Linked DNA regions of Homo sapiens: all the other regions are linked to region 1. Evidence: fine-mapped expression QTL. A gene starts in region 1. Each other region holds a variant in brackets. All regions are shown on one strand. Distances are from middle to middle.

Region 1 (9,969 bases):
AGTAATTCCTATGGTTATGCTGATGTTGGAGGCTGGGAGAGCAGCATATGGGGGTTAAGACAAGGAAGACGGCACATCTGGTGGAGGTATCAGGGTAGGCTTCCAAGCAAGTGGTTGCAGATGTGGCCTTGGTGACTGGGAGGGGTGTGTCCCAGGAGGTAGGAAGAGCATGAGCAATGGCACAGAGGTAAGAGTATGTACATAATGCTGGCAATTCTGGAAGTCACCCTGCATGGCCACAGGATGAGGTGAGGGCAAGGAAGCATGAGTCTTGAGGCTGGAGGACTGCACAGCCAGAAGGAGGAGAGATGCTGAGGATCTGAGACCTTCCCCCACCCCTCTCGGGGTGCAGGAGCTATCAGGAAGGAAGTGGGAGGCATGGTCCTCCTCAGGTCGCTTGTCCCAGACTTCCTCATCAGTGCCGCATGTACTTGCTCCTCTGGAGGGGCCCTGACGCAGGTGAGGGGACACTGCATGAGGAGATGTGGCTCTTGCACCCCCTCTTGTCCCCCCACCGAGTTGCTGGGACTACAGGCATGTGCCACCATGCCTGGCTGAGACCTGGCTCTTGTTCCAGCTCTGGTGCTTCCCAGTGGTGCAGTCAGGGAAAGCCATCACCTCCTTTTGGGGCTCAGCTTAGTCACCCACAAAAGGGCTGTTGTGAGGCTCAGAGGGTGAGAGGTGCCTCATGAAGGGAGGCGTTAGGGTCATTACCTATTCACAGTCCTAGATAGTCACAGTTCTGAGCAGCTCCCTCCAGGTATTTTCTTGTCCCTACTCCACTAAATGGCCCCCTCTGAAAGCCCTCCCTAAAGCAGGGCCGCCCTCAAACTCTAAAGTGAACTGTAGCTCAGTCCAAGGGTTAAAGGCTCAGACCTACAGAATCTTAGGACAATCAGAGGCAAAAGTGCTGGTGGATATCCCACACTCTCTCACTTGGCAGATGGGGAACAGGCACAGGGAGAGTTTGTGATGTGCTCAGGCCACACAGCAAGTCAGGCAATGGCGGGCTGGGCACATAGGTGTCCCGGCTCCTGAGGCAGGCTCCCAGCCTATTCTCTTGTGACTCCCATCTGAAGAAGGGGTTGGTGGTTGAACTGGGTCTCGAACCATAGGGCAGAACTCCATGGTAGAAAGTGAGAAGACGGCTGGCTTGAGGGAAGGACATTGGAGAGTCAAGCCTTGGAGGATGGGAAGGTGTGGGCTCAGAGAATGGAGGGGCCATCTGATTGGAAATGAGGGGGAGGCAGAGCAGGGGAGCCTAATTCGCTGAAGGACATAGATCTTCCCTGCTTGACCCAACCACTCACCTCTTAGAGGCACAGGGCTCAGAGCTGGGCAGGGCCCAAATGCTTCCTGTATCCACCAAGGGGTGAACTCTAAATGTAATCTCCATTACCTCACTGCCATGGGAGGCACCCTGGTCATTCCCTGGCAAGTGGGTGAGAGTCTTTACTTCACCCCAAAGTACCTGGTAGGTTACCTTATCTGCACCATAACCTGGCAGTGAGATGAGGGCAAGTCCCTATTCTCAACCTCAAGGCCCAGCCCAACCTGGAGCCCAATCTCGGCTCCACCCACTTAGCAGCTCTGAGATCTTTATTGTTTTGTTTCGTTTTTATGAGACAGGGTCATGCCCTGTTGCCCAGTCTGGAGTGCAGTGGCACAATCATGGCTCACTACAGCCTCAGCCTCCCAGGATCAAGTGATCCTCCGACCTCAGCTTCCCAAATAGCTGGGACTACAGGTATGTGCCACCATGCCTGGTTAATTTTTGTATTTTTTGTAGAGGCAAGGTCTTGCTATGTTGCCCAGGCTGGTCTCGAACTCCTGAGCTCAAGTGATCTACCCTGCCTTGGCCTCCTAAAGTGCACAGATTACAGGCATGAGCCACCATGCTCAGCCAGCTATGAGATCTTGAGCAGGTCACTTAACCTCTCTGAGCCTCTTCCCTTAGCAGGGAATGACACCTGGCTTGTGGAGAGAATACAACGAATGTTTCCAAAGTGCGTGGCATACAGTAAGTACTCAATGAATGAGATTTTCTTCCCACCTCTCTAGTCTCAATTTTAGATGTTCCCTGGCTCCCTTAAGTTCCAGAAGTGAGAGGTGGAGAGTGGGGACAGAGAAGGCAGCTCCTGGACAGGTGGGAATCCCCACTGTGTACCCGCCCCCATCCCAGCCCAGCCTAGGAGGCCATACTCGCCGCACCCTACACAAGTCCTTTGCTTCCCTCAGGGACCTCAAGCCTCCCACCCCCACCATCCTGCTGGCCTCCAGATTTTCTGCCTCCTGAAACCTGGGCCCAGGCCCCAGCAATGGTCCTCTCCCCAATCTGCTGGTGGCTCCCACAGGACAGGGAAATTAACAGCACTTGAGTGTGCTCTGAAGGTTGGTACAACCTGGCGGCCCCACACTGCCCATGCCCTCCTAGTGGAGCCAGGTGACTTCTGGGCCTGCAGGGGCTGAGCAGGATGCATCTTCCAGCTCTGGGCCACGAGGAAGTGATGGCACTGTCCTCTCTTGTCTCACCAGCAGATCTCCAGGCCCAGTGAGGCTGAGACTTTGGGGGTGAGGTTGTTGGACACACAGTTCCCAGTGAGTCCTGATGGCACCATGGACCTTACAGGGGCTCAGAGGGGGAAAGCAGCTTGCTTGGGGCTACACAGTCTATGGATGAACAGAGCCAGGGCTGAGGGGACAACAGGAAACTCTGTTCATGGGGGCCCGAGTTCCCATCCTGACCAATCTTGGGCAAGTCATTCACAGTTGAGTTTCCTCTGAAAGGGGGATGGTAGCGGCACCTAACTTAAGACAATGTGACAGTTCAATCAGGGAACTGAATTCTCAATACCTAGGAGGACCCACCACAGTACTCACCACATAGTAGACAGTAAATAAGTCATAGCTTCTTCCAAGACCCCAGAGGTATCCAATCTACCCCATTACCTCCCTGGAAGATGAACAAAGAGAGCAAGGGCCTCAGAGACCCAAGGACTGGAGCCTAGGGAAGACCCAGGACCCTGGTGGGCTTTCTGACTTGCTGCCATGCTTGCACAGAAGGGGAGGGTTGAAATGATCCCTGGTTCCATGCTACTAAGTTGAGCCTACTTGGCTCCTCTGCCCTCTGCAGCCACTTCCTGGGTTTCAGATGTAAATACTGGTGGGAGAGTAGGGGGCTGGGATGTGGGGTAGGGGGTGGAGCTTCTGGACAGGAGACTTTGAACATGAGTGGTCACCTCCGAGGTCACCTGCATCCCCCAATTCCTGGAAGTGGGCAGGCCCTGGATACTTATTGAGGAATCTGGACAGAAAGGTTGAGAGGGCTGGGCGTCCAGACCTAGCTGGTCATTAAGGCAACAAGAACTGGTCTAATTGTGGGCTGGGCTGGATTATCACATCCCAAATCCTTAAATACCCAGAAACTCTCTTTTGGGATTTTGGACCTGGGTATGGGGTGGCTGCTGCCACTGCTGCAATGCTGTGGATTGCTGGGAGTGGGACAGCTGTGGCTGCAGCCACCGTTCTGCAAGCTTAATTCCTACCTTCGGAGGTTTCTCAGGTGGCCCTGGTGTACCTACCTGTGAACTTAGGCCACCCACAGGCTGAGGAGGGGCTCAATCACACAGCAATGTGCTGGGACCATGACTCCCTGGTGTCCCTAGAGGTCTGGAAGTGCTTTCATACCACCCACCCTCTCCAGGGATGCTCAGCTGCCACCTACAGGGAGGGCGGGGGTGGAAGAGCAGCAGTCATCACAGTCCATGTCCATGTGACAGGTAGGAAGACTGAGGCCCCAAAGGAGTGCCTTTTCTTGCACCCAATGGCATAGGGAGGCAGAATTTCCCCTGGGGAAAATAAAATAACGCCCCCACTCCGCCGCCTGCGCCCCCACACACCCCGTCCCCCACGCCCGGGTGGACCTAAGCAGCAGTTTTCTGAGCTTTCAGGAATTCCAGACTGAGTTCACTGGCTGTGAGACTAGCGGAGCCTTGAGAATGAATTCAAAGCTGGCAAATTCATTTTGCCTCCTCTCCCTCGGTGGTGGAAGGAGTGATCTCTCCGGCTCTGAAGGAGTTCAAGCCGAGGTCAGCGAAGCCCTCAGAAGGATGTTCTAAAATGGGGGTGGGGGGTAGTGCTCCGGCCTGCTTCCCCGGTTGGCCCAAGGTCCGCGCTGATCACCGCCCAAGAGGCCCAGGAGACCCGCAAATCTGTGCTGCACGTCCGCACTCCCATGCGGGCCTCGTCAATCAGGAGGCGGCTCCGGCCAGGCCTGGACATCTTCGGCCCGCCCCAGGCCCCGGGGGAGACCCCCGCCTGGGCCGCCTCCGGGTGCCCGCCCCCCGGCGGTGTCATTGTTCTCTGACGTCACGCCTCAGCCCCGCCCCTCTCCCCCCACCCTTCCTCCCCCACCTCCGGCTCCCCGCGCCCCCGACCCTGCAGCCTCCGAAGCCCCGGCCGTGCAAGGCTCCCCCCGCAGCCCGGCCGGGGCTGCGCCCCCTTGCGCTCTCCCCAACTTGCCTTTGTTATTCCAGCTCCCTTCCTCGCCTCGCCTCCGACACGGTGGCAGCCTGCAAAACGTGGAGCGCGGAGTCACTGCCACACCTGGAATCCGAAGCGGGCTCCGCCGGCTCCCGGCCGAAGCCGCCCCCGCCTGCCGGGGAGGGGAGCGCGTGCGTGGGCGGCGCGTGTGTGTCCAAAGAGGGCTGCGCGGGCGCCAATTATGATTGGGACTGGGGGTGCCGAAAATCAGGGGTGGGGGGCCTCGAGGAAGGGGTATGGAAGAGGAAGTGGGAGAGGAGGGCGTGTGTTTGTGTGTGTACGTTAACGTGAGGATTTAGTGCCCAGGGGAACGTTTCGTGTTTTGTTTTTTGATTGTATGTGGGGTTGTGTACAGCGATGTGTGTGTGTAACTGCGTGTCTCTGAGCGTGCCTGCTGTGGCCGTGTAAGCGGGCATCTTTGTGAGGGAAAGTAAGCGAGTGTGTGGGGGCGCGTTTGTGGTTTGGGGGGGAGCGTGTTTGCAATGCTGAGGGAGCGAACGTGTGTGCCGTTCTTGTAGGAGTTTCCGTGAGAGTGGCAGTGGACGTGAGCCAAAGTGGGCGCGTAGTTGGATGCTCTCGGGGGGGGGGGGTGGGTCGGCTAGGGGAACTCCCGCGAGTGGGTGCACCCAACTGCGCCTCGTGAGTACCTTAGCTCTCCGCTATCTCTGGCAGTGCCCAGTCCGGGGCAGAGGGCCAGGCCCCAGCCTAGCAGCTCCCACGCAGCCCGCGCGCACAGCGCCCCGGGCGCTCCGCGCCGGGCCTAGGGGAATCCACGCGTCTCTGGACTGTGCTAGGTGCCGCGGATCAACTGTGGCCACCACACCCCCGCTCCCCCACAGCTGTCGGGGGGCCGCGCTCTAGTCTCCCTCAAAGTCACCCTTGGTGGTGGTGGTCCTCTTCCCACCCCAACCACCAGTCCCCGGGCTGTAGGAACAATTCCAAAGTCAACCCCAGGGGAAGGCTTTGGAGGTCCAGTTACCAACTCGCTTACCCCAATTCGGGTACCTGACAGCGCCCGGGGCCACGAGTGCACTCCAGGCGGGGGCGTGCCAGCGCGGGGCAGGGGCTCTCGGGTGAGCAGTGTGATTTTGGCTTCCTCCCCAAGGTGGTCCCTACCTAGGCTCAGCATTTGTTCCCCTCTCCAAACTTACTGGGGCTGGGGCCTGCAGGGGGGCTGGGGGCTGCAGGGGGCGTCAGGGAGTAGCGGAGGGAGTAGGGCAAGGAGAGAGGTGAGTGGACTGGTGGCGTAGCGGGGAACCAGGAGCCAGGAGAAGAAAAGCTGGGAGAGCGCCGAGACCGAGGAGCGAGGAAGAGAGGAAGAGAAAGGAAAGGAAAGGCGAGGGAGAGAACGAGGAGAGGCGAAAAGGAAAGGGGAAAGAGAGCGCAGAGCGCGAGCCAAGCCGAGCGCCGGCAGCGGCGGCGGCGCGGCGCGGCGCTCCACTCCGGCCTGACTCCGCACCGGCTTTTGCGGGCGGCCGGCGGCGCGGGGCCCTTTGGAAATAGAATAGCCAATGTAATCTGACACTTCAACTTGCTCGGCTCCGGGCGAGTTGATTCACTTACTCACCCCCTAACGCCGAGTTCCTTTTCACTGTCTGTGGACATTAAAAAAGCGAGCGGCGGCGGCGGGCGCCGGGGAGAGCGGGCGGCCGGGCGGCAGGCGGGCGAGCAGCGATCGGGCGGCCGAGCGAGCGAGCAACGCCGGCGCAGCGCGGTGACCCCAGCCCCAGCCGGCGCGGAGCAGGAGCCGGAGCCGAGCGGATCTCGGCGCCCTCGCTGCGCTCCTCCCGGCCCGAGCCTGCCCTACCCGGCGGTGGCGGCGGCGCGTCCTCCAGCGGCGGCAGCGGCGCTCGCAGCGCCCGGTAAGTTTGGGGCCAGAGCCAGGCGCCCGCTGGCTCCGGGGCTACCTCCCGCTCCCCGGGGACTCTCGGGGTGCAAGCGTGGGGATTGGGTGCTGGGGTTTTTCCCTTAAAGTGTCCCCCGGAGCGGGGCGACCGGCCGGCGGCGCGGGCTCCGCTCCGCTCTCCTTGGCGGCCGGGGGCCGAGGCCCGGCGGCCGGCGAGCTCCCGGCTGCGCGGAGCCGGCTTGGGCTGCGCGTGGGGGCCGGGTTTGTCAGGGTGTGCGGGGCGTAAGTGTGGTCGTGCGCGCGCGGACCCGGTGCCCGCCTCCTGCCGGCGCGCCTCCAGCCCTCGCTCCCTACACCCGGGGGCCGGGCAGGACCGGGAATCGGAGGAGGGAGGGAAGGACCGCCTCGGTCTCCTTCGCCTCCTCTGGGGAGATGCGAAGTTGTGCGCCTGTGTGTGTACAGGAACCGCTGGGGAAAGCGCTGGATTTCAGGATGGCAAGGGGTGGTGGTGTTAACTTGTGCGTCTGAATTTCCAGGGAAAACATACACTTTTGTAAATGGGAGGTGGGGGCGCGGTTAAGTTGTTTGTGTGGGAATTGCCCGGGGAAAGCTGGCGCGCGGTACAAACGAGAAACGCGGAGGTGTGTGTGCAGGGTTTTCTCCCAGGGCTTCGCAAGCCAGAGGGGCGCTCAGGCCAGTGCCTGGACGGGGCTGCCCCGGCCAGGAGGGGAGCCCAGGGGGAAGATGTGCGTGTGTGTGCGCGCGCGCGTTGCAAATACGAAAGTAATTTCCCCGTGTTCTTTCTTCCTCTCCGTCTCCGGCGGCGGTGGCCCCGGGGGAGTGGGAGGCCAGCCGGGGCGGAGGTTGGGGGGCCGGGGCTGGAGCCGGGGTCGGGGGGGGGAGGCGGGTTCTGGAAGCTTGCTTCACATTCCTGGCGTCTGGGCTGGGGAAAAAACAGTGGGGAGCGCGGCCTCGGCGTCTAGGGCGCGGGCAGCGGGCGCGCGTCGCCCCCTCGCTGGGGACATCTGTCCAGGAAGCCGGCCGGGCGGGGATAGGGCGCGGTGCGGAGGGCAGGCTCCCCGCCCTGGAGCGGTGGGGGCGCGGGCGAGGGGCGGCCGCCTTCCCGGCCATTGTGCGCCAGCAGATTTTCACGGGAGACTGCCCCGGAGCCGCCGGAGAAGGCCGGGAGCCGGCCTCAGCCCCGGGTTTAAAAGACACTCCAGGAATGTAAACAACCCGGGCGGGAGGGCGGGCGGACGGGAGCGCGCCAGGGCAGCCGGTCCGGGCCCCCCACCCCTCCCCGGGGACAGCCGGTCGGCACTGCCGCCCAGCCCTACCCCTCTACCTGCAGCAAACTTTTTCCTTCTCTGCCTTCCCTTCCCACCTCGTCCCTCCAGCAGGTCACAGAGCGAGGGCCGCTCCCAGGTGGGCCAAGGGTGCTTGGTACCCTTGCCTGACCGGGGAGGCCTGACGGCCGGGTCCCTGCTTCGGTGCCCGGAGCCCCGGCTGCGCCTGCCCGGGAGCCGTCAGCTTCCTGGGTAGGCAGTGCCCGAGTAACTGGGGCTTTGAGCCTGCCCGCCTGCCTCCCTCCCTCCCTCCCTCCCGCTGCTCCTTCCCCCGCGCGCTCTCCCCCTTCTCCTCTCCCCTGACTGCTTTTCCAATGCCCTGACATGAGGGAGGAAGATTTAACTTGGCAGCCCAAACAAATGTTCTCTCAGAGGTCCTCCAAGAAGCTGGCGGCTGGGCTGGCGGGGTGAGGGCACGGCTCGGCCAGCCTTTCCCTCCTCTCTGCTCTGCCACGGACATTTGGAGCCCTCTGGGTGGACAGCCCAGGGCATGGGAGAGTAGGGCCCAGCCCCAAAGATTTAAAAGGGCAGTGGGCGGCCGCCTGTGGAAGCCCCTGGCTCCGCGCCGGGTGCAGAGCCGCTCCGAGCTGCCTCCTGGTGCCAAGGGTTTTCTGAAGGATTTTCTTGAGCAACAGTTTGTCTCCCTGCTGCAACCTGGGAACCGGGCCTGGTAGACCAGAGGGTTAACCAGTGCCGACTCCTCCTCCCTGGTGGGTGTGAGGACAGGCTGGTTACACAGGGCAGGGCAGGAGGCCAGAGGCTGTTCCCAGAGGTGCCTGGGTTTGCTTATTACTGTTTTTGAAGGTACAGATAAAGAGGCAGGCGCCGGGGCTGGAGAGCCGGGCAGCTTGGCGCTGGTGAATTCCAGCCTGCGTTCGCTGGCGCTTGTACGGTCCCGGGAGTGTGAAGCTGCTGTTGAGCTATCGGGGAAGTTGAGATGAGAGAGCAAGCTCTTTCTTAGCCTTCTCAGCCCCGGCTGCTTTGTGAGGGGGTCCAGAGTGGGGGAAATTCCTGGCCCCTCACTTGCTGGCTCCTGGCCCCAGTGCAGGGGCCGGGTGGGTTTGTGAATACCCCAAGCCTTGGGCTGACCTTTCCCTCTTCAAGTCGAGGATGTTGAAACATCAGCATCAAACAAAAGACACATTGAAAGCCCTATCTGCTACAGAGCACGTGTGAGTTGGGGGCCCAGGGAATGCATTTGGAGGGAGATGGTGTTTTCTTCTGAGCTTTATGATTTTCGGTTGGGTTTTGTTTTCCCCCAAAGGACAGAAGCGTCTCCTTGTCCCAAATCACGAGGTTTTGAAACGCTGTTTTCACATGTAAATCTCAAAAGTTTAGACTTCTGAGAGTTGGTGGCAGTGACTGGGGGTGGGGGCTGGGTGGGGGGAGGAGAAGGGAGCAGTAGGGAGTGGATTCAAGAGGTGGATTTGGCATTTTGGGTAGGGCTTACTGAGAAGAGTTGGGAATAAGAAATTGCTGGACTTATGAATAAATAGCCTTGTCTATGCAGAAAAGGGTTGCTGGCTTCTTTGTGGGGACAAAATGTCCCTTTTCCCTCCTAAGCAAAGGGGGGAGGAGGGTTCTTGTTCCTCTCACAGCCAGGGGCAAAATGAAGAAAGGTCCAGAGACTGCGGGGTTTGGCGACAGAACCAGTTTCTCCCTCACGCACGCGCGCACGCACACTCACTTCCCTAGCCACAATAACAACGATGTCTCCATCCCTGGCCCCCATAGATATGCCTCCAACATAGGACAGGTGTCCATGCTTGACTCATTCCAGAAAATTGCAGGGGCAAGGACCCAACTGAGAAGAGCTGCAGACTTCACTTTTTTTCCTGTTTCTTCCTGATGGCGGGAGGGGTGAAGGGATTTAGGAAGGAAGGCACTTTGAGGCCTGCTGCATCCTGAGAGTTTTGTCACAAGAATACCTGCGTATAAAGCCACTGACCCTGAGGGTCCAACGAGTGGCCATGACCCTGGCCTCAGGGTGAGGCATTGTTGTAAGAAATTCAGGCACCAACCAATTAATTTCCAGAAGCTTCTGTAGGCACTTGGTCGTGGGACCAGGAAGCAGGGCCTGCTGGTTCGTGGCTGGGTCCTCTACATTTTCATTCATAACTTTGCTCCCCAGGGCCCTGGCCCAGCCCCTGTCACTGCTGCCTGGTCTTTATGAGGCTCCTTAGATTTTGTGTGGACAACAAAGGCCAGGCTGCCACGATTACCCAGGACACTGCT
Region 2 (9,969 bases), 89 kb before region 1:
CAGTCCCGCCCCGCGGAGGGGCCCGACTGAGCTGGGCCGCGCGCCCCAGCAGCCCCAGCAGCCGCCGCCCACCTCGGCCAGCCTGGCTTCTGCGCCCCGCCAGGAGGTCGCGGAGCGGAGCGCGGCCAGGAAGTGAGCTGAGAGTGACAGCTCCCCCCACGCTGTTTGTTTATTCATGACTCATTCTCTCCACACACTGGCTCTTCTTTCTTTCGGGAGGAGGGGAGAAAGGAGCGGGAGGGCGGGCGGGCAGGGGAGAGGCAGGCTCCACAATAAACAATGAGGCAGCTGAGCCGGTGGGGAGGGAGGAGCCCGCGCGGGGCGCAGGGCCGGGGCTGGGGCCGGGGCGCGGTGTTTCCAGGCCGGCCGGCCCGAGGCTTGCGCTCCCGATCCCCGATCCCCGATCCCCGATCCCCGCTCCTCCCGGCCCCGCCCGGCCCAGCCCGGCCCGGCCCGCCCGCCGCCACCTCCCGGCGACCGGGCAGTAGCAGCCGTAATTGGATCCTCGCTGCCTCCTCCCAGCTCCCCGCCCCCAATCGGGGAGCGGGTAAATGCCGGGTACCTTGGCAAAACAGTCGGATCCAAACCTATTATTTGACTAATGGGCTTCCCTCGTGCGGCTCCGCAACGCCCTGCAGACTCGCCCCTCCCCCCTGCCCCCTCCCCAGAGATGGCTCCCCTCAGCGGCGCGGCTCCGGATAACTGGAGGAAGCGCGGGTTCCGAGGCTTCAAGGGCCTCATTGTTCTGCCTGGAGGGGCACATTGAAAATGCTCCAGGGTTTACTTCCTGTGAAAACAGCCTGGGAGGGAGGGGGCGATCCACGGTGGAAAGACATTATCCTCCTGGAAGCCGCCCAGATTACACAGGGAGAAAAAGGTTGTTTTGATTGTTGCTGGCTCTTTCTTTCTTCCTTCCTTTTTCTTTCTTTTTCCTTTTTTTCCCCTTCCCTCCTCTCTTTTGCTACCCTCCCCGGGCCAAAGATGAATCTTTACTGCTGTGGAGCAAGTTGGAAATGTGGGGCTGTTTTCTGCATAAATAAGGCTGGTGAATGGCAGAGCCAGATATAAAGTCTGATTCAGAGAAATTCAAAAGAATGCAGGGGCGATGAGGTGGGCAAATCCAAGAAACTCATTTCCCCAGCATGCCCCTCTGAGTCACGTCTTGCACCATGAGGGGAAAACACATCACGCCACAATATGTCACATGCCTGCCGCAAAGGAGCAGGCCCGGTGGGAGTCACACAGCTCCTTCCTCCCCAGCCTGGCTCTGCAAGTCCAGAACCACAGAGAGCAAAGTGTCAGCCGGGAAGAGGCGAGGGTCGGTCCCACCAGGCTCCAGGTCAAAGCCTTCTCCTAAGTGAGCTGGGGCAGGAATAGTACTATAGCAGCAGCGCACCCTTGCACAGCGCCCACTAGGTGCAGGGGCCTGTTCTGCGTGCTTTCCATATATTCCCTCATTTAATCCTCACCACGACCCTGCAAAGCAGGTGCTTTTACTCTCCTCTTTTCCAGGTTAGGAAGCTGAGCCCAGAAAGGTTAAGGAATTGCCGAAAGCCACACAGCTGGTGAGCAGGGAAGCCAACCCAGCAGGCTGGCTGCGGGGTCCACGAGCTTGGCCACTGCACTGACACTTCCCAGCTTCCTCAGACTTGTTATTGGAAAGTGGAGACAGTGACACCAGCCTCAATGGGAGCTCAGGAGGGTGCATTAGGAAAATCCAGGCAAACTGTTCAGGACAGCACTAAGCATTAGCTCATGTTGATGGTGCTATTGTTTTCAAATAAACTGGACCCATAAGAACAATTCCTTCCTAACTCACAGGGTTGTCTTGAGGGTTAGGAGAGACCAATTCAAGAGGCCGTCCCCAGGGCAATGCCTGGCCCTCGGCAGGTGCCCGTGGATATTGGTTTTCTTCTGCTTTCTCTGCCTCCTTTTCCCATCCCTTCTCACTCAACCTGAAGATTCTTGTCTTGAGATTTTCCCATGTACCACCCAGCAGAGTAACCATACAGGCACCTCTCCCAAGATCCTCAGCCCCACTGCCGTTCCTGTCAAACTGGGTGGAACTCTACATGGGCCCAGAGTGCCAGCCTTACGCGGGCCTGCCCTGACCACTATGCGGCGACTTCAAAGTGGCTCCCCCAGCCCCTGCCCCCTCCACCTGCACAACTCCATTTGGCTCCGTTCAGCTTGTTCTTTTGGCCACAGCCTCATGGCCCTCTAACACACTCTACAATTCACCTCTGACCGTATTTGTGATGTTTTCTGTCCCCCACCTCCTCCAGCTAGAGTGTAAGACCCACAAGAGTGAGGATTGCCACTTTGTTCACTGATGCATCCCAAGCATAGGAAGCCCCAGTGAGTGTCTGCGGAACGAATGAATTCCCGCTTGTTGACCACTCTTCCCTGCCCGTTGCCTCCTGTATTCACCAGAGAAACTCCCACTCATCCTACAGACCCCTGCCTCTTGGAAACCCTGCCCCATGCCACCCACCCCTGCTTCCTTGCTGACAGCTCACAGTGCACCCTCCTTTAGTCATATCCCTTGTCACTGCGCTTTGCCTCACCGACCTTCCTTCCCAGACCTCCCCACTGGCCCTTCTGGGACCCCACTTCCTTTAAGAGCACCCCCTCTGTCCTCAGCCTTGTGATGGAGGCTTTGCCGCTGGTGACCCATCTCCTCTATCCTCTCTGGGGCGGCTGTTTCTGTTCCTACATCTCACTCCCTTGTGTGGTTCCCAAGATCCCCACATCCCTTTCACATCCCTAGGGGTGTTTCCAGACTGTGAGGCCATCAGACCCTTTCTTTTTTTTTTTTTTTTTGAGAGACAGGGTCTTGCCATGTTGCCCAGGCTGGTCTCGAACTCCTAGGCTCAAGTGATCTGCCCACCTCAGCCTCCCAAAGTGCTGAGTTTACAGACATGAGCCACTGCACCCTGCCCTAGAATGGGATTTTTTTTTCTCATTTAGGGTTCATGCCTCCTGATTCTACTACTTTCCCCTCTCTCCCAACCTCTTGGATCCCACCTTCCTAGCCAGCATCTTTTGCTCCTGAACTACCCAGCCTCAGGTCGCTGCCTCTCCTTCCCTGTCCAAGGTCTGCCAGCAGCTGATGGCCTTCAGCATCCATGTGGGTGACCCATCCAATACCTGGACTCCCCGGACCTCCAGCACCCTTCTCCAGGGACCCTCTAGCCTACTCAAGTCCAGCCCCCAATCCCAGGCCACCACTCGAAACTGCTTTTCCTCTTCCATCTTAACCCCAACATCTCTTCTTTCCCTCTGACCACATTCTCCAACTGCTCCAATGGTTTGGTCATCAGAATGACCCTCTCACCAGCACCCCTGATTTCTTAGTACCCCCATCCTTCCCTTCATCCGCCCAGCCAGACTTAACAGGGGCCAACCCAACCACACTCTTTACACGGCAAGCTTAGGCTGGCAAGGGCCCACAGCATGAAGATTTGGCGCCAGTGTCAACATGAGGTCTCCAGTCTCAACTGCACCGTGGACATGAACCCAAAGTCCTCTGCCTGCTTGCCGGCCTCCCATTTCCCTCATGGGTTCTTTGTCTCACTGACCTTCACCCTTCTCCCTCTGCCAACCTCAATTCCCAGAGACACTTGGCTTCGTCAAAATATGAAGGCCCTTTGGTGGGACCTGCTGCCCCTGCCCTGCCTCCAAACACAGCCCCACACCCATCCTGAGTATCCTCTGTCCAGAATCAGAGGGTAAGGAAGGTCTCTCTTCAGCCTGCCAGCCCACCCTTGCAGTGAGGTGCTGGGCAGGCCCGCTCTGGAACCTCGCCCATCTCTCCCTGGCCTACAGCATGTCCCTCTCTACCAAGACTTCCTGCTCTCACCAGGCCTCTGCATGTGCTCACATCTCTCCCATCCTAAGGAGATCTTCCCTAATCTCTGCCTCTCCCTGGCAGGCCACTTGCTGTCCTCTTCTTGTGGGATACTTTACTGCATTCAGTGCAGTCCCCCACATCCTCACACTTAACAGCTGTGTCCTCCCCGGGACCACGTGACATCACCATTTCTGCTAGCCTCCTACCTCTCTGACCATCCCTCCTCTCCTGCGGGTGCCCCTTCCTCCACCCACTCACTAGAGGCCAAGGATGGCAGGGAGAGATCCCTTCTTCCCTCTGTGGGTCTTCCTGGACCGTCTCACCACCCCTGTGGTTCCCCCACTGCTGTGGGCTTATCCTTTCCAGACGTACACGTCTGGCTCAGCCTCTCCTGCCCTCCAGACCCTGGGTTTCCAGCTGCCTCCTGGGGTTCTGTGGCCACCTTAACACCTCATAGGCACCTCAGACTCACCATGTCTCAACCTGAGATTGGCCTTGAGTTTCCAAGTCGGCTCCACTCCCGGAATTCCTCAGGGCTGGGTTGCACC[A/C]CTGCTCAGCCCCAGGACAAGGCCACCTTGACTCCTCCCTCTCATCCCACACACATCCCATCAGTCTCTGGGTCCCAACAACTTGACCTCCTAAATGTTTCTCAACCCGTCCCTCTCCCTGTCCCGCTACCACAGCCCAAGGTCAAGCCCTCATCATCTCCTGTCTGGGTTATTGCAACAGCCTCCCCTGCCTCATGCCTCTGCTCACTGAGTCAGCTGCCACACTGCTGCCAGGGTCACCACTTAAAATGCAAATCCAAACAAGCCGCTCTCCAGCTTTAGAACCTGTAAGATGAAATCAAACTGCTAAGGGTGGCCCACCGGCAGACCCAGTGCCCCACTGAGCCTCCAGAATCCTCTCCCTCCACCCTGGGCTGGGGTGTGTGTTATCACAGCACAAGGCAATAATCACTTCACACAGCTTCATGCCTCCCTGGTTTTGTTCACGCTGTTTCATCTGCTGACAGCACTCTGCCCCATTTTCAGTCTGCTTAATTCTCTCGTCTTTCAAGACTGATCTCAGGCGCCTCCTCTTCCAGAAAGCCTCCACTGACTACCCCTCCTCCCACCTGAGGCTGATGCTGTGCTAGGGGATAAGATCATTCTGTTCAAAGTACTTGTTTAGGCCAGTGCGGTGGCTCACGCCTGTAATCCCAGCACTTTGGGAGGCTGAGGCAGGTGGATCACCTGAGGTCAGGAATTCAAGACCAGCCTGGCCAACATGGTGAAACCGCATCTCTACTAAAAATACAAAAAATTAGCCTGTAATCCCAGCTACTCAGGAGGCTGAGGCAGGAGAATTGCTTGAACCCAGGAGGTGGAGGTTGCAGTGAGCCGAGATCCTGCCACTGCACTCCAGCCTGGGAAACAAGAGCGAAACTCCATCTCAAAAAAAAAAAAAAAAAACAGTGCTTGTCGAGATGGGTGTCTTCTCCATAAAGTGTAGGATTCTGTTTTGATATCCATACCCTCAACACCCAGAACTGACTAGGTGCTCAGGAGAAATAGGTGGAGGTAAGAAAGATGCCTGGCACTCAGTGGATACCCAGCTCATGCCCAGCTATCCTCTCCAGCCGTGCTCCAAGCGGAGCCTAAGGGTGGCTCCTCCTTCCATACTTAGGAAATCTTGAAAGTATTGGCCGGGCACAGTGGCTCACGATTGTAATCCCAGCACTCTGGGAGGCTGAGCTGGGTAGATCACCTGAGATCAGGAGTTCAAGACAAGCCTGGCCAACATGGTGAAACCCCATCTCTACTAAAAATACAAAAATTACCCAGGCATGGTGGCACACGCCTGTAATCCCAGATACTCAGGAGGCTGAGGCAGGAGAATTGCTTGAACTCAGGAGGTGAAGGTTGCAGCGAGCCAAAATCGGGCCACTGCGCTCCAGCCTGGGCAACAGAGCAAGACTCCATCTCAAAAAAAAAAAAAGTATTGTGTTGCCTTCCACCCTTTCCAGCGGATGGGTGGCTGAACTGGGCACACCATACAGCATTTAAAATGAGCAGTGTACAATTTTTGGCCAAATCTAAGCCAGATCTTCCCCAGCAGCTCTGTCCCAGCTTTGCATCGGTGTCTGTCACTGAAGCTCCCTTTCTTCCAGCTCTATCTCAACTCCAGCACCTCCCCTCCAAGCTCTCCCTGACTCAGTTTAGTCCCCATACATAGAACCAAGCTGGGGCCGGGAAAAAATGCACCCACCAGGAAGCAAGAAGCACGGTTCTACTCCCGGTTCTGCCATTGACCCCCAGTGTGATCTGAGTTGATGCATCCCACATGGGGCCTCAGTTTCTCCCTTATACTTATAGAGTTATAAGTATCCCCCTTATTCTTACAGAGTTAAGAATAGAACCAGAGTACCCTTTGGGACTTTAAGATCTACATAGAGAATTCCTGGAGGCTATGAATGAGGGTGCAGCCTCGACGTCACCAAGGCGCTCGTGAGATGATTGTGCCCCCATCCATAGGGACCCCATAGACACAGCCTCCTCTCTGCTCTCTATGCATTTTGCTTTTCACCTCCAGCCACAAGGCAACTCTGGTTGTTAAAAATAAAAACAGCCCAGAGCCGCCAGATCCAGGGATGACAACTCTTCTAAACCAAGGGAGGGGGTGCTGTTTTTGTTACAGTCACTGAGCTTGACTCTAATCCAGGAAAATCAAATCGAGACATGACTTGGCCCCTCCGAGCTGGTTTGACCCCAGAGATGTGGGTCAATCCTTGCTGTGGTGGCATCTGAGTATTTCATGCCAACATCACAGAGCAAGAGACAGGAGCACGGTTTATGCGTACTGGGACAGTCAGTGAGATTCGGTGAAGGACATGAGGTACCTAGGCAGCACTGGGCTTCAGGCTGGCACCGGGGAAGGACAGACAGGAGGCAACCCCCTCCTTGGTCAGCCCCAAGAGCATCAGCTGTGCCCCGAGTCGGGGGACTCAGAACATTTAGAGAAAACTCCACAGAGGAGGCAAAATTTGAAAAAAGGGAGAGGAGCTACGACGGCATCAAGAAGGGGCAAGGCATGCCTTTGACCGTGTCACTCCTGCAAAAAGCCTTCCTTGGCTCCCCGCTGTCAAGTGGATGAAGTCCAGACTCCTCAGCTGGCAGGCAAAGGCCTTCCCATGCTGACCCCAGGGTGACCTCTTCCCTCCAGCATCCCTGGGCTCCCCATTCTGTCTCACCCTTCCTCACACACCCTGGGTGTCAGCCTGGGTGGCCACATATGCCAGGCTCTGTTGCTCTCCAGTGGCTTTGCACATGCCATCTGCAGAGAATGAAACGCCCTTCCCACCGCTCGCTGCCCCATCTTGACTTCATCTTCATGGAAAATCCCTTCGTGCTCTTTCAGTCCCACCTCCAGTGACCCTTCTCCACGGAACCTGCCTCAACTCACCCAGCTGGAGTTGAACCATTTGTCCTCCGCTTCTGCAGAGCAGCCCTTTATGTTCAGACAAACAAACAAATAAACAAAGATGTGCTCCACCAGACAAAAATAATCCCTATCCACTAAGAAACATGTTGCTGCCCAGCTTTCGCAATTGCTGTCTCACTTGATTCTCACACTCTGTGGGGTAGGAAGGAAAAGAGTAGCATTGGCTACAGTTCATGATGAGGCACCTGAGGCTCAGAAACCTCGGGGCACTCAGTCATGGTCACTCAGTCACTTGCTAGCATTGAAGAGATCGGCTCTAGATTCTTGACTCTAGAAGGGAAGACACCCAGTTCTGACTTGGTTTGCCCATCTGTCTACCGTACCTCCCTGTCTTCTCAAGGGAACCCCTCATTCCTTGAAGGGGGGGGCCTCATCCAAATCACATGGTGTCCCCTAGAGCACCTAGCTCAGTGCTCAGCACACAGTAGGTCTGATGGTTTCCCAACAAAGAAGTGGAGTCTGAGCAGTGCTGGGGGAGAGGATGTGCAGAGGGAAGGTTCCTGCCAACCAGGGTGGTGTGTCTGGGTCAAGAGGAAGAAAAGGTGATGGGCAGACTGGGGTAGGCAGGGTGAGGCCAACCAGGCCATTCAGGCTGATGCATGGGCAATGGGGAGCCATAGGAGGTTGTAGAGAAAGGCCTGCTTCAAAGGGACTCCAAGCCAGAGCCCCAAGGGAAGAGGTGTGGCCATAAGAGGGACTTCCCAACCCAGGCCAGAACCCCACACTTCCCCTAGCTCAGAGGTGGCTGCGGCTCTGCATGCAGACTTAGGAGGACAGCTTCCTCTCCAGGTGAGAGACGTCAGACACAGCTATTGTGAGGGTCTGGGGAGAGACAGGACAGAAGCAGCAGACCCTGGAGTAGCAGCCTGAATGCACCTCTCCCGGGGGCTTCCCAGGGTTAGAAAAGGCCTGGCTCTCCAGGAGGCTGGGAACAGAAGAGAGAGTGGAGAGTGCCAGGAGTCCCCCAGCCCCAGGCCCTGCAGGAGGGAGGAGAGCTCTCTGCCACCTCAGCCCAGCCCTGCTCCGGGGAGCGCTCCACACACCACCAGCAGACAAGTCTCCAGACAGTGCTCGTGTGTCAGCATTTCTGAAGATGTGGAGGAGAAGTCTGTGGATTTAATGGGACAGCAGTCTGCAAGGAGAACCAACAGGATGGGATGGGGAAGGAGATGCCTCCGCAGGGCAGATGGACAGCAGCCTGGGCACCCAGCCACAGCCATGCAGGGAGCTCTCAGCAGGCCACATTCCTCACATGCTGCAGGGAGGTGGCGCGTCAGGGCAGAGAGGGCTGCACTTGCCTGTCCCGGTCACTAGCACCACATATAGAGTGTGGCTCCTGAGAGGGGGCCCAGGCACAGCCACAGCCAAGAAACTTGCCAAGGGAACATGCTCCAGTTCCCACATGGACCCACATGGACTCTCCACGGCCAGTGGCACAGTCTGCCCCCTGCCTGGGCTTCCCGGACCCTACACATTTGACCCCAGGGCCCCTCACCCCATCATCTCTCAGGCTTCCTAGATGTCTTCCTAGATCTCCACCTCTAGCCCTTACACAGATCATTTCCCCAACTTGGACCAGGTGGCCAGGTGAAATACTGGGTGCTCAGTTAGCTTTGGATTTTAGGTTAACAATGAGTGTTTAGTATAAGTATGTCCCATACAACACGGGAGATACTATACTACAAATGTATTCATTCTTTACCCGAAATTCACCGGGGCATCCTGTATTTTTATTTTCCTAAATCTGGTAACTCCAATGTCAATGCCCCAATCCCTCAACGCCGCCTTTAGTGACAGGCATTCTTCCTTCCATCTAGAGGGTAGGCCCTGTTGGCTTTGCCTTCTGAGGGCCTCTGTCTTCCATTCTGTTCCAGTTTCTCTGTTGCTGTATACTAAACTACTCTACAACTTAGTGACTGATAATGAAAACGATTTTATTCTATCTTGAGATTTGTGTTGATCAGGAATTCACACAGGGTTCAGCCGGGTAAATCTTCCAGTCCCTATGGCGTGCATGGGTGCTACTCAAGTACTATTCAGCTGGTGGATGGGCCCTTCTGAAAGCCCTGTGTTGGCTTCACTCGCATGTCTGGCATCATGATGGGGACGCCTGGAAGGCAGAGCTCCACTGAAACTGTCCTCCAGAGCACCTGTCACGTGGCAGCCTTGGGGTAACTGGATTCCATGGGGGCTCAAGGCTTCCACATGGAGTGTTCCAAGGATCCCAAGCAACCTGTGTGCTTTCTTATGACTCAGCCTTGGAAGTCCCAAACATCACTTCTGCCACATTCTATTTACTGATCAAGCAGTTCAATGCAAGGGCCAAAAATTAGACTCTATTTCTTGATAGGAGGAGCAGCAACGATGTGCAGCCATTTCTGATCTATCACACGTCGCCTCCTCTCCATCCCCTCCACACCGCCCAGGCTCAGACACTCATCTCTGGCCTGTGCGCTTTCCAGCCTCCTTCTGACCTGTTTCCTCACCTCTGCCTTCTGATCCATCCTCCACTTCAGCTACTATGAACTCATTTTTCCTAAGATCCTGGATTGACTATGTTGCTTACTGCTTGATCATTTTCATTGGATCCTTCCTAGACTCTAAGCTCCACAGGGACAGGGAACAAGACCTTT
Region 3 (9,969 bases), 23 kb before region 1:
AAAATACAAAAATTAGCCAGGTGTGGTGGCACATGCCTGTAATCCCAGCTACTCAGGAGGTTGAGGCAGGAGAATTGCTTGAACCGGGGAGGCGGAGGTTGCAGTGAGCCAAGATCGTGCCATTGCACTCCAACCTGGGTGACAGAGCAAGACTCCATCTCAAAAAACAAACAAACAAACAAACAAATTATCAAGATTGGCGTAAGAAAAACAAAACAAATAGCTCCATATTTATTACAGAAATGTAACTCACAAAACCTTCCCTAAAAGAAACTCCAAGCCCATATATATCTATAGTGAATTTTATCAAATATTTAAGTAGAAAATAATACCAAACACAAATTCTTTCAAACCATAGAGGATGGAATACTTCCCAAGTTGTTTCACAAGCTCAGCAGTACTGTGCTTAATAACACCAGGCAAACACAATATAAGAAGACTACAAACCAATGAAAAATCTCAGCAGACTCTTTTAAAAAACAGACATCAACAAACTGATCCTAAAATTTATATGAAAATGAAAAGGACTTCCTAGAATACCCAAAACACTTTTTAAAAAATAACATATTTGGAGAACTTATGCTTCTTGATTTCAGGATTTACTACACAGCTACAGTAGTCAATAGAGTATGGTATTGGTATAAGGAAAGATATATGGATCAATGGAACAGAAGAAAGTCCCCAAGTAGCGGGACTATGCAACTGATTTTTTACAAAAGTGATAAGGTTATTCAGTGGGCAAAGAATTATATTTGTAAGAAAAGACATGAAAACAAAAAAATACCAGACTTCCAGTTTCTATTCCAGCATGTAAGGAGCTTGGGAATCATCGCTGTCATCCTCACAATAAGAAAACAGCTAAACAAACTGAAAACCAACAACTCTTCTTAGATTCATCAGAGAATTGAGGCCATGGGGCAAACTAATGCCTCCAAAACTGGAGAGATAGACAAGTGAAAACAGAGAATTACAACTTATCAGAGCAGAAACCCATCAGTAGAACCCTCTGTGGGAACTAGTACCAGATTACTTTTACCTGGTACATCAGATCTAGCTTCAACAACAATTTATAAGGCACACAAAAAGGAAAAAAATACAGCAAAGGCATAACAAGCACCAGACCTAGACACAAATACGACAGGGATATTGGAATTATCAGACCAGAACTTTAAAGCAAGTATGAAGTATGATTAATATGCTAAGGTCTCTAAGGGAAAAAGTAGACAACGTGTAACAACAGATGGGTGATATAAGCAGAGAGATACAAATTCTAATAAAGAATCAAAAAGAAATGCTAGGAATTAAAAACATTGTAACAGAAATTAAGAATGCCTTTGATAGGCTCATTAGCAGACTGGACACAGCAGAGGAAAGAATTTGTAAGTTTGAGGATATGACAATAGAACTTTCAAAACTAGAAAGCAAAGAGCAAAAAAGGCTGAAAGCAATTGAACAGAATATCCAAGCAGGACTACAAAAGGTATAATATGTGTATAATAGTAATGTCAAAAGAAGAAGAAAGAAAGGAACAGAAGAAATATTTGAAGTAATAATGACTGACAATTTCCCAAAATTAAAGTCAGATACCAAACCACAGATCCAGGAAGCACAGAGAACAGTGAGTAGGATAAATTCCAAAAAATCCACACCTAGGACTGTCTATTCAAACTGCAGAAAATCAAAGATAAAGAAAAATTTTGAAAGAAGGCAGAAGAAAAAAAAAACAAAACTCTTATCTATTGAAGAGCAAAGAAGGTAAGAATTACACCAGACTTCTCAGAAACCATTCACACACACAAAAAAAACAGAGTAGATTGAAATATTTAAACTGTTGAGAGAGAAACAAAATAAACAAACCAAAAAACCCATCAACCTAGAATTCTATATGCTGCCAAATTATCTTTCAAAAGTAAATACTTTCTCAGACAAGCAAAATTTGAGTGAATTTGTTGCCAGTATACATGCCTTGCAGAAAATGTTAAAATAAGTTCTTTAGAGAGAAGGAAAATGATACAGGTCAGACACTCAGATCTACATAAAGAAAGAATGCATAGAAGGATAAATGGAGGTAAAAAAAAAAAGCAACTTTTTCTTAATTGATACAACAGATAACAGTTTGTTCAAAATAACAGCAACAATGTATTCAATGATTATAGTTTATGGGTTGGTAAAATGAAAGACAGCAATGTTACAAGGGAAGAGAGAGAGGGGAAGGAATACTTTGTTATTACAAGGTACATGCATTGCCCATGAAACAGTGCAGTGTTATTTGAAAATGGAATTGGATTAGCTGTAAATGTATATTGCAAACTCCAGGGCAACCACTAAGAAAAGAAAAAAAAAAAGTATAATGATATGCTAAGAAAGAAGATAACATAGAATCATATAAAATGCCTGATTAAAACCACAAACAGCAGAAAAAGAGTGGAAAGCAAAACCAAGAATGAAAAACAAGGGCAATAACAGAAAACAGTAACAAATATGATAGAGAAAGCAAATGGATATCTATATGGACCTCAATTCCACCTCACATCATTCATAAAAAGGAACTCAAAACAGACGATATATCTGAACACAAAAGCTAAAACTATAAAACATCTAGAAGAAAACTGCAGAGAAAATATCTGCAGCCTTGTTGGCAGGCAAAGTTTCCTTAAACAAGTCATGTCAAGCACTAACTAGACAAGCAAAAACTGATCAATCAGACTTTTACTCTTCAAAAGATACAATTAGGAAAATGAAAAGGCAAGATACCAACTGGGAAAATATTTTGCAACACAGATATCTGACAAAGCACTTGTGTCAAGAATTCATATGAAGAATTCTTAGAACTCAATAAGAAGACAAACAACCAGTAAAACTAGGCAAAAGATTCAAACAGGTGCTTTGCCAAAAAAGGCATATGCACATAACCAGATGATCAACATTTTCAACATTACTAGTTGTCGTGGAATTGCAAATTAAAGCAACAGTTGCCATTACATACTCACTAGAATTGCTCAAAGACCGATGATACCAAGTGTTGACAAGATATGGAACAAATGGAACTCTTATACACTCCTGGTGGCTAAAATGGTGCAAACACTTTGGAAAAGAATTTGGCAATTTCTTATATAGTAAAACATATACTTACCCTGACAATACAACAATACCAGTTCCAGGCATTAGCCCAAGGTAAATGAAAACATGTTCACATGAATGTTCATAGCAGCTTTATTCATAAAATCCCCAAACTGGAAATAACCCAAATTCTATCAATTGGTGAACAGATAAACAAATTGTGGAATGTCCATTCTCCAGAATACTACCCAGCAATGCAAAGGGCCGAACTACTCATGCAAGATACAACATGCATGGCACTACACAGAAAGTACATACTGCCTAATCACAATTTATAGGACATTCTAGAACATGCAAAACTAATCGATATTGATAAAATCAAATCAAATGTTGCCTGAGGCAGGAAGAGGGATTGATCAGGAAGGGGTATGAGGAGATTTTGAGGGGTGATGGAAATGTGTGATATCTTGGGTGTGGCAGTGTTTACACCACTGTACACACCTGTTAAAATTCACTGAACTGTACAGTGAAAATGGGTGCATTTTGTAAATTGTTTCTCAATAACACTGATTTATATATATATATGAGTGGTTGGAAGAATAAATTCAGTATTTTCTTTAACAACCAAAACTGCTTAAGTACTACTTGTGAGCCAGGGAAGAAGGTAGGAACTTTCTCAGAGAACCCAGGAGAACTGGGTGCTAGCCTGGCACCGCCCCTATCTCCCAGGGTGGGCTTGGACAAATCACTAAGAATACAGTCAAAGGTGCAGGTCCAGGACCAAAAGCAAGGCCCTCTGTTGGGTGGGGGAGATATGTGAGTGACGGTTACAGCAGGCACCCTGAGGGGGCACCTGCAAGACGGAACAATGGCCAGTGGGCTGGGAAGTCCAGAAAGCCTTCCCCAAGGAGGAGACTTGTGCTGGCACTGCAGAATGAACAGGAGAGCACTGGGATTTACAAGTAAGTGGGGTATTCAGCCCCAGGGGAA[C/T]AGCATGTGCCTGGGAACAAGGGCAAGAAGGGCCATGCACTGAAGCTCTCTGCTTGCAGAGCTGTTAGCGCAAACACCTGCTTCTGGGGGCCCCAGGGAAACCATCTGGAGCAGATGCTCCCAGAGACCAGGATGCTGACCCCTACTTCCCACAGACCAGGTACCACCTCCTCCAGAAAGCCATCCATGACTGCATCTGAGACTGTCAGACCAGGAGAGGCTGCAAAGAGACATTGTATGAAAGACCAAAAGCAAGACATTTCATTTCATTGTTGGATGGATGGGAGTCCATGAGAGAAAATGCTTCAGAGAGCATCTTGCACGGGGCCGAGCCTTCAGTAAATGCTGGTTTCCTTAACGATCAGAAGGAATGGGCTTCATTATCCCCATTTTATGCCGGGGAAAATGGAGGGGCTAAGAAAACCTAAGTGGTGGGCCTGAGGGGGCACGGCTTGTGAGTGGGGAGCTGAAGTGTCTCATTTCTCTACCCTTGCCCACATCCCAGGACCATATGACTTCACAACAGGAAAACCAAGGCCCAGCGAGGGCAAGTGACTGTCCAAGGTCACACAGTCACTGTCAGAACTCAGACTTGACCCCAGTCTCCTGATGCCAATGCTGACCCCTCCCAATGAGCCTCAGCCTGGGACGTCACTCTGAGGCCCAGACTCCAAGGGGTGAAGGAGCCCCCAGCAAGGCCTGGCTCTGCCTGCTGCCACCTTTGGGAGCAGTACACAGCTTTAGAAGGCCCACGGCAGGCTCTGCAGCTGAGCAGGGGCTGTGGGAAGGTGGTGAGGAGGGCCAGGACTTCTCCACACTGAGTGGAGGGCCTGGAGCCAGGTGCAGCTGGCCCTAAGCTGAAGGAGGAGGGATGAGGGATGGGAAGTGGGCAGCTCGGACCAGGAGGAGGGCAGCTTGGTGTCTCCAAGGCCCCACATGGAGCCCTTCACGTTGCAGCTGTGCCACTCCCCCCATTGTGCCTTCTGTTCCCCAAATGCGGTGGTCTTGCTGATCCAGAAGATATAAAAAAGGAAAAACTACACACGCTTTGACATCAACAAATCAGGGTTCTTGTCCCTGATCCACCAGTTCCAGGAAAGATGTCTTTAGACAATCAGAAATTCTCTAAGCCTCAATTTCCTCCTCTGTGCAATGGAGCTAATAGTACTATTACTGGAGCATAATGCTATACTCCCCATAAAAATCAGTCTTGATTTTCCTTTCTAGAAACGTAATTCTGACAACCCACTATTGTTGAGCTTTGATCCCCCAGCCTCACTCAGGAAGGCAGGAGGCTCCTCAGTACTCTGGAAGGAGAAGCAGGGCCTTCAATCTCTACTTTGTCTTGGAGACTGCTGAGGCTCTTGTGGTCTGAGATGTGTGACCCTGATGTCCTGTGGTGCCCTGCTTCGCCAGGCCAAAGTTAGAGCCGAGGGTAGGTAAGGAAATGCAAAGCCTGGTCAGCAGGGGACCCTGGTATTAAAATCTATCAAATTCCTCCTGCAAGGAACGCTCCTCTGAGGCGAGTGGGGCAAGTGGGTGCATGCAGCACAGCTCTGCGTCTGATGCACAGGGCTACTGGGAGGACAAAAAGAGAACCATGTGGGAGGCGCCTGCCCAATGCTGGCCCACAGAACGGCCCTCCAATTGCCGGCACCCAAATCCTTTGGTCCCTGCAATCCCATGAGGCAGGCACTGCAAGAAATAAAGAGGCCCAGAGAGGATCAGAGCCTTGGAGAAGGACATGCAGCAAAGCAGGTGCCCAGGGCATGTGGCACAGCACTCCTCCCCCTGCCCCAGAGACTGCCATCACCCTATCACCCAGGGAAAGAGTAAAGCTCGTAGGCCAGGTGCAGTGGCTGACCCCTGTGATCCCAGCACTTTGGGAGGTCGAGGTGGGCAGATCACTTGAGCTCAGGAGTTTGAGACCAGACTGGTTAACATCGTGAAACCCCCATCTCTACTAAAAATACCACACACGCACACACACAAATCAGCCAGGCTGTGGTGATGCATGCCTGTAATCCCATATAATAGGGAGGCTGAGGCAGGAGATTGCCTGAATCTGGAAGGCAGAGGGTGTGGCGAGCCGAGATCATGCCACTGCACTCTAGACTGTACAGCAGAGCAAGACTTCATCTCAAAAAAAAAAAAAAAAAAAAGAGTAAAGCTGGTGCATTCTCAGGGTGTCTGGCTGCCAGCCTTGTAGGTGACGCAGGTCCCAATGAGAGTTACAATTAGATCTCACTGGAGACGTATTTCTATTACCAGGGCTGAGCACGTGAGCCATGCAGCAGCGTCCCTTCTTTCGTTCGAGAGACTCTGCCCTGGCTGGAAGTTGAGTAAGGAAGCCTGGGATCTCGCCCTGGGCCTTAGTTTACTTGTCTGGGAAATGGTTATGGTGGCTGCAGTGTGGACTGTGAGACTCAACCCTTCCTTTTCCCTGCTGTTAAAAATCCTTTTGAAGAATAAGGTGGCCCCACCCTCTATATCTCCATCCAACAAATTTGGAAAAGGGGGAAACAGTAGAAGTTCTTCTTTCCTGGCCTCCTTGACCACTACTGTGGGTTATTCCCAGGAAACCCACACAGGTCATGGAGGACGTTCATCTTTAAGAAGACCTGTGCCATGTCAGAGCGACATGTGTCAGAGGAATTACTCACTTGACAAAGAAGGTGCTTTTGTCAGAGGAGGAGGTGGCCCTCGGAGTTCCCTGACATCATACATCAGAGCCCCCCTCCCGTGTTCCTGCCCTAAGGGTCCCAAGGTAAGAGACAGACCTGGGAGGTGTGAGTCCTACACACAGCCCCAGTGCCCTGGTCTGAGGTAAAGGCTGGAGCGAGCTGGCTCAAGGGCTGGGGTTAGCACTAGGCAGCTTGAAACAAGAGCCTGGGAGAGTCCAGTGGGTGGAGGTCAGTGGGAAATGAAACTGCAGTTCTCAGCAGGGCCTGCCACAACCACCACTCTCAGACAAGGGGCTACCCTGGGCATGGGGAGGAAGGCACTCCTCCCCTACACTGGGCTGCTGGAGGAGTCCAGGGGCCGGGATCTCTGTCCTGGGCAGGAGCCAGGCCAGGCCAGCTGAGACAGTCTCCCTCCATGACTCTTGCTCCTGGTGGGAGGTGGGTGGCCTTATTTTTCTGAAAAGGAAGTCAAAGCCTCCTTTGTTGGCCTCCCAGCCTCCACCTCTCCCCTGCAGCTCCTCCACCTCTCCCCTGAGCCCTCCTCCCTTCTGCTGCCTATAGAATCCTTTTAGAACATGGCCTCCATCACACTCTCCCTTGTTTACCCACCTACAGTAGCTCCCCATTGCTTCAGCAGGTCTCCCAGACGCGACTCAAGACTGAAACCTTCATTAAGGATGCAGGAGCCCCAGTCCCCGGTCTCACAGCCTCCAGAGTCTACTGGCTCTTGGGGACTTCTCTGTGCTTCTTATTTGATAGTTAAGCCATTTGATGCTCAGAGAGGCTAAGTAACTTGTTCAAGGTCACACAGCAGGAGGACTTGAAATTCAAATCCAGCCTACAGAGCTCAAGCCCTGTCCACAGAAGGGCCAACGGCCCAGGACAGATGCTTCAGGAAGCTGTGTTCCTTAGCTGGGTCGAGCCTGCCCTGTGTGGGTAAGAAAAATGGTAGGGTGGGAGCTTTGAAGACAGTGCCATGCCACTGGCAGAGCCCAGACCACAAATCCATAGGCTTGGACCCTGGCAACCTTGGCCGAGCCTCAGCTGTCTCCTGTGGAAAATGGAAAACAAAACCCCTGACCTCCCAGGTTTCTGCAGGAGTGTGGCTGGACGGTGGGTGAACCAGCCCAGCCCTGAGCAGGGTGCACAGGAGGTTTTCCTTCCACGTTCCTGGCTTTTGCACAGGATCCAGAGGCCCAGGGTCGTGGGTGCAGCCTCCACCAACCCCAAATCCAGCAGGGACCCAGTTGCCACCCACACCCATGCCACACCCATGCCCACACCCACGGTGAGGCTTTGCAGGCCCAGTAAACAACCCCTTGCCCTCCTCCCCAGAAGGAAACTTTTTTAAAGCAACAGAAACAAACTTCTCTGTGTGCTGTGTGTGTTGGTGACAGGAAAAGGAACATCACTTCAGAGAGGAAAAGGCCACCGGGGTTGGGGGCAGGGCCAGGCAGAAGCAGCCAGAGGAGAGAAACAGAAACGGAGATCTGATAAGGGCGCCCTGCTCATCTGGGCTGGGGACAAGCGCTGCAAGGCTGGGGCCCTGGCACTGGGGTGGGGAGGGGGTGGCGGCTCAGCCCCTCCTCAGCCCCTCCAACCGCTGAGCTGGGGGTGTGGGTCTGAGGTGGCCTGGGGTGGCTCGGCAAGGCTCCCCTCCTTTGGGGCAGGCCATTTCACTGGGTGTCTGCCCCCCACCCTGGATGGTGGGGAAGAGAAGTAAGGGCCTGGATTTGGGAACCAGCCAGGGGCTCTCAGGTTGGTGGTTTCCTTTCCCCAGCTTTGCTGCTGACTTACCCATGGTCTTGAGCCAGTCTCTCCCGCTCTGGGCTTCAGTGCTGCCCAGGTGACGGTGTTGACCATCTATGATGACACTGTCAGGACACAATGCTGAGTTGGTAATCTGGAGGTTCAGGGTGGTGGGCTTGCTGTGCGGCTCTGAGCAAGTGGCTTCAGCTAGGGTGAACAGGGCATTCCAGCTTAGCACTGAAAGTCCCGCATCCCAGGAAACCGCCCCCCGCCCCTCCCCTACCTCGTTCCTGGGCAAACTGTGCTGGTTGGCCACCCTTCAGCCTCTGGGCCGAGACTTCCTGGATGAGCCTGTACAGGTCTTTGCCAGCTCACTGCATGGCCCCCTCCAGGACTGAGGGTCGGACTTGCCTTCCTGGACAGACTTTGAGCCTGACTGGTGGGACAGGACAGACACCTGTCCTGGTGAACCCAGGCTGCTTCTGGGACAGGCAGGCTGCATGAGCAGGTATTACAAATTGGGACCAGAGTGGGAACAGATAGAGGCGCTGGGGCAGGGGAGGAGACTTGGAGAGAGTGGTCCCAAGGGCCTGGACCTGAGGGGAGGGGTCTGATCAGCAGAGAAGAGCAGAGAACTACATTCCAGGGGAAGCCACAGATTGGGCAAAGCCTGGGAGGCCAGGTGGTAGGGCACGCGACGCCAAGCCCTGTGCTGAGCATCAGCTAGATGGCAGGCCCCAAATGGACTTCCAGGGCCTCTCAGTTGAATTTCTAAATCCACTGTCTCCACTCTCTGAATTCCTCTGGCCGTGTCCACTGCCAAACAATTTGCACCAAAAACAAACACATAAAAAAGAAAAACCCAACAAACAAGTTTCCGCCCCCCCCCTCCCGCAAATAAAGATAGACTTTGCTGGCTCGGCGCAGTGGCTCACGCCTGTAATCCCAGCACTTTGGGAGGCCAGGCAAGCAGATCATGAGGTCAGGAGTTCGAGACCAGCCTGGCCAACATGGTGAAACTCTGTCTCTACTAAAAACACAAGAAAATTAGCTGGGCATGGTGGCGGACGCCTGTAATCCCAGCTACTCAGGAGGCTGAGGCAGGAGAATTGCTTGAACCCAGGAGGCAGAGGTTGCAGTGAGCCAAGATCTCACCACTGCACTCCAGCCTGGGCGACAGAGGCAGACTCCAGATTCCGTCTCAAAAAAACAAAAAAAGATAGACTTTTCCCAGAAACTAAAAGCCCCCAAGATGGGGCTCTGAAAGTGGATGGCTATGCTCCCATGCCTCCCTGACTCTCTGTGCAGCCCAGCCAGCAGGGGCAGACCGCCCCAGGCAGAGGGCCTGCTTCAAATACCCTCAAGGCCTACCCACACCAAGGATGCAGATTGGCTTCTCCAGGCACTGCCCACTTGCTCAACCTCAGCCCTGCGAAGCATTTCACCAACTCCCCTGGTGGCAGGGAGTCACCTGCCCATCCTAGTT

Which allele goes with the higher level. Alleles are on the strand shown, and positions count from the first base shown. SD is a standard deviation of normalised expression in the study named. Not every link is listed here.
For the expression in fibroblasts of the gene that starts at base 4,582 in region 1, allele A in region 2 goes with a higher level than allele C (small effect, 0.38 SD a copy in GTEx).

The links.
Region 2: its variant is fine-mapped to the expression of ZMIZ1-AS1 in fibroblasts (GTEx, PIP above 0.99). The same link has a PIP of 0.9 or more in thyroid.
Region 3: its variant is fine-mapped to the expression of ZMIZ1-AS1 in sigmoid colon (GTEx, PIP 0.91).

Annotation. Positions count from the first base shown.
Region 1 is chr10:79,062,867-79,072,835 of GRCh38, forward strand. ZMIZ1-AS1 (ZMIZ1 antisense RNA 1) reads right to left here and starts at 4,582. Exons shown (of 10, transcript NR_024431.2): 1 at 4,522-4,582; 2 at 3,582-3,720; 3 at 2,881-2,953. ZMIZ1 (zinc finger MIZ-type containing 1) reads left to right here and starts at 6,100. Exons shown (of 25, transcript NM_020338.4): 1 at 6,100-6,404. RefSeq lists silencers at 4,141-4,350, 4,391-4,440, 4,541-4,750, 5,551-5,620, 5,881-6,860, enhancers at 5,014-5,859, 7,061-7,110, 9,416-9,919 and a cis regulatory region at 5,733-6,418.
Region 2 is chr10:78,973,534-78,983,502 of GRCh38, forward strand. The region is part of intron 5 of ZMIZ1-AS1 (ZMIZ1 antisense RNA 1); the gene reads right to left. Among named protein-coding and RNA genes, the nearest start is that of ZMIZ1-AS1, 89 kb to the right of the region's middle. RefSeq lists silencers at 2-71, 242-731, 8,728-8,919 and enhancers at 1,113-1,162, 6,488-6,988, 6,989-7,489, 7,969-8,048. The variant A/C (reference allele first, on the strand shown) is at 4,402.
Region 3 is chr10:79,040,243-79,050,211 of GRCh38, forward strand. ZMIZ1-AS1 (ZMIZ1 antisense RNA 1) reads right to left here. Exons shown (of 10, transcript NR_024431.2): 5 at 8,532-8,690. Among named protein-coding and RNA genes, the nearest start is that of ZMIZ1-AS1, 22 kb to the right of the region's middle. RefSeq lists enhancers at 6,813-8,012, 8,125-8,184, 8,620-9,302 and a silencer at 6,828-6,887. The variant C/T (reference allele first, on the strand shown) is at 4,051.